2 linked regions of the Homo sapiens genome follow. The protein of the gene in region 1 purifies or fractionates together with the protein of each later gene. This does not show direct contact. Each region holds a gene or a part of one and is shown on either strand. Other genes may lie near its edges.

Evidence for each region.
Region 2: the proteins of LARP1B (region 1) and MSLN purify together in Homo sapiens (affinity purification with mass spectrometry; one large-scale study listed by BioGRID and IntAct). This does not show direct contact.

What each region holds. Positions count from the first base shown.
Region 1 is NC_000004.12:128,176,312-128,179,811, reverse strand, and holds part of LARP1B (la-related protein 1B), read right to left. Parts: intron 2,941-3,500; coding exon 2,905-2,940; coding exon of another isoform or gene 2,893-2,904; intron 2,602-2,892; coding exon of another isoform or gene 2,546-2,601; intron 1,382-2,545; coding exon 1,170-1,381; intron 407-1,169; coding exon 300-406; intron 1-299.
Region 2 is NC_000016.10:763,734-766,547, reverse strand, and holds part of MSLN (mesothelin isoform 1 preproprotein), read right to left. Parts: intron 2,526-2,814; coding exon 2,405-2,525; intron 1,902-2,404; coding exon 1,822-1,901; intron 1,642-1,821; coding exon 1,512-1,641; intron 1,439-1,511; coding exon 1,245-1,438; intron 1,022-1,244; coding exon 931-1,021; intron 858-930; coding exon 758-857; intron 490-757; coding exon 311-489; intron 214-310; coding exon 58-213; intron 1-57. UniProt on the Homo sapiens protein: Membrane-anchored forms may play a role in cellular adhesion. Megakaryocyte-potentiating factor (MPF) potentiates megakaryocyte colony formation in vitro.

The DNA of each region.
Region 1 (3,500 bases):
CCACTAAGACTCTGGGAACTTTCCAAAGATAATAACTTTCATAGACCTACATAGCTTATAAATCTAAGAGTTCACATTTGTGAAAAATAATTTAAATGGGAAAAAAAAACTGTCCAACTGGATTATTTCCTTAACATACTTGTAAAACTTATCTCTTCTTTGGCTTCTTTGTACCATTTTCATTGCTCTATAATTTGCTAACATATTAATTTTTAAATATTTTGAAATATCCAATTAGTAACTGTTTTCAAAAAACTTCAAATCACGAACAAAAAAGTAATGTTTGAGAAATATAGTACCTGACAGAGGATGTTCCTGGCCCACGGTCTCTGGAATCCATTACCCAACCAACATGACACTCTAGAGGGGGATTTGTGCTATGCCTTGTTTTTCTCTTTCTTGGACTCTAAAGAAAATAAAGTCAAGCATTGCAATTAGTTTCAATAGTGTGAACTTCACAAGTAAATTAAAACCCTCTGACTATAAATGAACTCAAACATTTTCATACTGTAGATAACACATTGTGAAATCATATGAAGTCACAAAACTCAAAAATCTCACACACAAGTTACAAAACTTAATAAATAAAGTCCTTTGGTAGGTTTGTGACACAAAGATGAAATGAAGTGCAGCTTAGTGTGATTCTTCATTATACTTTCTGTTCGTCTTTAATTACACTATCCAATTGTAAAAAAGGTTTTTGTTTGTTTGTTTATTTTTAAATGGGGTCTTACTCTGTTGCCAAGGCTGGAGTGCAGTGGCATGATCATGGCTCACTGCAGCCCTGACCCCTACAGGCTCAAGCAATCCTGCCACCTCAGCCTCCCAAGTAGCTGGGACTACAGGCACACGCCACCACGCCCATCTAATTTTTGTATTTTTTTAGAGATGGGGTCCCACTGCATTGCCCAGGCTCGTCTCCAACTCCTGGGCACAAGCGATCCACCTGCCTCGGTCTCCCAAAGTGTTGGATTACAGGCATAAACCACCGTGCCCAACCGAAAAATTTCCTAACCAGAGAAAATATCACTATGGTAAAGTATGATTTTTAAGTGAAATATTACAAGTTATAACACACATTTTTCAATGTGATAGAAACTAAAACGTTTCATTCTGTAATGTTAAAGGATACAAAATGCAAGCCTTATATTCCTGGTTGTTTTGTATACCTTTACATCAATGGCTTTTGGTTCTTTAACAACAGGATAAAATCTTGGTGTTTTGTTAGGATCTTGTAACCTAGGTGTTCGAGGTGTTTTGGGTGTTCTTGTAGGATGAATTCTAGGAGATTCTGGAACTGCTGTAGGCAACGAATGAACCATTGCTGCTGAAGTTATTTCTGAAACATCAAATAACTTCTGAGCTAATTCATCAGTCAAATCTGCAAAATAAAAAACTCTTAAAATTATTTAGATGCTAGGAAAATATTTTACTTTGAGAATAAGGATAATTTTGTAATTCTCTAAGCTCAAAGGATTTTTCACTGAAAACATTTCAAATATATAAAAACAAAAATAACAAATACTTTTTTGACCATTATCTAGCTTTATAAAATTTTTATTTTTCTATATCTGTTTATGACCTTTTTTTCTTTTAAAGAAAGGGTGAAGCTTCCTGTGTAACCTCCCCTAATCCCATTTCCCTCCTGCTTTCCCTTCTCAGAGATAACTAGCCTCTTAAATTGGAATTTTGATCTTTTATTACATATATGTAATATTATTTTGCATAATTAACTTTATGTAACATAATGCTATATATATATATATATATATATATCACTTTGTAAACTTTTTTCATGTTTTATTTACATAGCTCTAATTTGTTCATTTTCATTGCTGAATAGTATGTGGTGTACAAATATATCACAATTTATCCATTCTCCTGCAGATAGACATTTATGTTATTTCAAAGTTTTTTGTTTAATCAACAATGCTGTGATCAACATTGCTGAACATGTCTCTGTACAGGTACAAGCATTTCTCTAGGGTTTATATCTGAGTGGAAATGCTGAGTCAAAAGAGATAAGCATCTTCTAACTTAATGACTACTGACAGCCAAACCACTTTCCATAATGATTTCACCAACTTACACTCTCACCAGCAGCATGTGAGAATTCCAATTCAACATTCTGGTGAAGACTGGGTTTTGTGCAAACTCTTAAATATTCTTCCATCTCATGGGATTTAAATGATCTAGTTGTTGCTAGTGAAATTGAGCATGTTTTCATATTTCTAGTTACCCTTCAGACTTCCTCTTTTGTAAGCCTGCTATTCAAATCCTTTGACTGTTTTTTTTATTCGGTTATTTTACTTACTGATTTGTTCATGAAAATCTTATGGTAAGATAACAAACAAGCCAGCAGATGAATCAAGCAGTAGCAACAAAAAAAAATAGGCACTATTTCTGTGTGGTTTTTCTTCAGACTTATCGACTTTTTTTGATTCATATAACAACTTTTTGTTTTTTCACTCAACAAATACTAAGTGCCCGCTATTTGCCAAGCACTATTCTAGGCACGAATTTGTAAAGTCAAAAGTGAACTTACACATTTGCCATTTCCTCTCCCAATCCATTTTCTTCACTGTTACCAGAATGATTATTCTGAGGAGCAAATTAGATCATTTCATATTTCTGCTTAACATCCTTCAGTGTTTCCCATTTGCCTCTAGAATAAGCCTAGGCTCTTTACCCTGGCATATGAGATTTTGCTGATTTTGCCTCATCTGTTGTCATTTTCCACTTTGTTCTTGGTGACACAAATAGCACCAAACTGTCAGTCCTGTTCCTTGTTCCATATCTTTTCATATGCTTTTTCTTCTGTCTGAAAGTCCCTTTCCTGCATCTTTTGTATACCCAATGCAAAGGATATCATAGCCTCCCTTTAATACCCACCACAGATGTTACCTTTCTTGGGAATGTGAAGCACTCCTTGAACACCTCCTGCCAAGAGAGTTAATTAGTCCCTTTTTGTGCTGTGTCTGCATTTTATCCATTTATTGTTTCATTTATTAAATTAAAATTTATTTTCTTACATATCATCCCATAGATGCCAAGAGTAAGTCTCATTGCTTCCCAGAAAGCAACTACCACAACTGCATCGAATACTAGTGCCTACCATACATAATGTTTGGGAAAAAATGTATCCTCATCAAAGGAATGCTAAACTTAATTGAATTGTGTTAATACTGTTTTCCTTATGCCAAAAATATATACAATCTGGCCAGGTGCAGTGGCTCACGCCTGTAATCCCAGCACTTTGGGAGGCCGAGGCGGGTAGATCACATGAGGTCAGCAGCTCGAGACCAGCCTGTCCAATGTGGTGAAACCCCATCTCTACTAAAAATGCAAAAATTAGCCAGGCGTGGTAGCAGGCGCCTGTAATCCCAGCTACTCGGGAGGCTGAGGCAGGAGAATTGCTTGAACCCGGCAGGTGGAGGCTGCAGTGAGCCGAGATCATGCCATTGCACTCCAGCCTGGGGAACAAGAGCAAGACTTCATCT
Region 2 (2,814 bases), on another chromosome or scaffold:
TCTGCCCCTCAGCCCTTCCCAATCTCATGCCACATGACCCCCGAGCCGGACGGTCACCTGAGGACTCATTTCGTGCCCTTTGTTGACTTCAAGCAAAGCCTTCAGGGTCTCCAGGGACGTCACATTCCACTTGCGAATGTCCTCAGGGCTCATCTTGAGGAAGAGGTAGCCCAGGTGCTGGATCACAGACTCGGGGTAACCTTGTGGGTAGAGCTGCAGGCCAAGAGACCAGGAGGGCCCATGTCACTCCCAGAGGGGCTGGGGATGGCTTGGACACAGCAGGCCGGTGGGAACTTGAGTCATGAACTACCTCATCCAGTTTATGCTTTAGGACGTCCAGCTGCTCGTAGGTGAAGGGGATGGCGTTCACGCGGTCCATCTGGGTGGCCAGCAGGGCCGCATCCACGCAGGCTTCCAGCTCCCACTTCTTGTAGAAGATGAGGCTCTCGTCTATCTCGCGGGCCTTCTTGCCTGAAGGACAGGCTGTCTCTGCAGGGCACAGGGGTCAGGGGTCAGGGCCGGAGTTCGTTTGACCCCTTCTTCCTCCCACACCTCCTGTGAGATGAGACCTCGGGCCATTTGTGACCCTCCCTGTGCCTCAGTTTACCCACTGGCAAACAGGGATTCTGTCCACTCTCTGTGATTATAATGGGATGTGCTGCAGAGCCAGGGAGGGGCAGGTGAGACCCTAAAGTGATGCCCACCCCCAGGGGTGCTGCCCAGCCTGGTGCCAGACTGCGCAGGGCACGGCACTCACTCTCCACTTCCCGCCGGAACCGCGGCCGGAGGATGGTCCGTTCAGGCTGCCGCCAGGATGGGTCCCGAGAGGAGCGTTGCCGCCACGCGGCCACGATGCCCTGAGGACGAGCAGGACCTGGGCTGAGCCTCGGGTGGCCGGGCATCCCCACGGGCTGGGGATTGGGGTCTCACCTGCGGGATGCTGCGGATGATGGGCTGGCCCAGCACGGGCAGCAGGCCCCGCAGAGCGTCCATCGTGGAGACAGACCATGTCGACGGGGGGCTGTGCAGACACGGGACACAGCTCAGGGACCCCCCACGTGCAGCCCCAGAGAGGGAAGAGGCCAGGCCGTACCCCCTGGCTGTGGAGGGGACGCTGGGGGCATTGGCAGGGGTGGTGGCGGGGGTGACTGACCCTGGGCCTTGAGGCATGGCCGCAAGTGTCCTCACGCTGCTGATACCACGCCGCCAGGTGAGCCTTCGAGGTTCCAGACACCTTCACTTACCCGTAGGGGGGTCCCCCGCCCTGCAGAGCCGCCCTGGCTGCCTCCTGCTGGTCCTGGTCCAGGGGTCCCGGGCAGCTCACCAGCCGGGGTAGCAGCACTTCGGCCGACTCGGCCACAAAGCGCCCAGGCAGGTCGCAAGCCAGGCCTCCCAGAGCCCGCACATCAGCCTCGCTCAGCAGAGACCCCCGCACACCCTGCAGAGAGGCTGGCCTCAGCGCTTTTGGAACTGCCGAGCCCTCTCCGCCCCGCGCTGGCCCCAGCCCCTACCCAGCAGGCCAGAGCCGCAGGCAGCAGCCGCTGTCGCTCGGGAGCCCCCCTCGGGAGCAGGTCCACATTGGCCTTCGTGATGCGGGAGAAGAAACGGGTGCAGGCCTGGGGCCCCGAGAACGCATCTGGGCTGTGAAGAGAGGGTGCTGGGGACAGGCCGCACTGATCACACCCGTCCCCACCCTGAGAGGCAGCCCGGCCGGCCTCCACATCTCTGCTGTGGCCTGGGATCCGAGGCAAGGGGCAGGGGGTTGGGGGCTGAGGGCTGGCGGCAAAAGCCGGGGGGGTGGGTTCAGGGGGCAGGGCCTACTTGAGGAATAGCAGCAGGTCCAATGGGAGGGCGTCCAGGTCCTCGGGGGGCTCAGAGAGCCGGTGAGCCAGACAGCGCAGCTGCAGGGGCAGGGAGTCCAGCACAGAGCGTTTCGAGCCGCCACTCACATGGTGGGCCAGGGTCGCCTGGCCAGTCTGCCCACCACAACACACCCCTGCCCTGGCCACGAGAATCTGTGGAAGTGGATCTCTGGCCGCCTGCAGCGCTGCCCTGGGGGATGGGGGCTCCCGTGCCTGGCTCCGCTCCCCTTCCCCAGATCTCACCCACTCCCCCGAAAAAGATTCACCCTTGGGGCAGAGCCTGGAGGGCTGCCCACGGCGCTCCAGGAGGGGGCCCAGCACACAGCGTCATATCAGACTTGCTCCTGGGGAGCCAGCCCCTGACGTGGACAGGCACCCCAGTGGTCAGCTTGGGTGGCCAGAGGAACTCTGGGAAGAACTGGCCGGGGAGAGATGGCAGCAGGGACAGAGGGGACCGTGGTGGCAAGGTGGGCACTGCAGAGCTGCCTGTGAATTCCTCAGCCCCAGCTGTGCCCACCTGCCTCAGCCCAACTGAGACTGACCTGCTCTGTTGAGAGCTTGACATTCTTCTGTGCCAAGGCCACAGCCAGCTCCCGGACACGCTCCGTGCTCAGGCCGGACACCTCCGCACACGGGAAGCCAAGGAGTTGGCGAGGGGAGAGGCTGCAGGAAGGGTCGGGCTGGGCACCCACGATCGCCCCTCCCCTGCAATGTCCACCCAGTGCTCCCCAAGCCCCACAGCCCCACCTCTCCCCAAAGGACCCTGGTGCTCCCTGCAGACCTCCCCCCAAGACCAGGTGACGCCCTCAAGGGCCGGGAGTTGCCATCACCTGAGGGGTGTCAGTCCCTCCCGCAGTCCTGAGCCCAGTCAGATCTGAGGTGGAGCAGAGGAGGAAGGGGGAGGGGATGCTGGGGGATGGGGTGCCCTGCCCACCCTCAGTCCCGAGGGCCC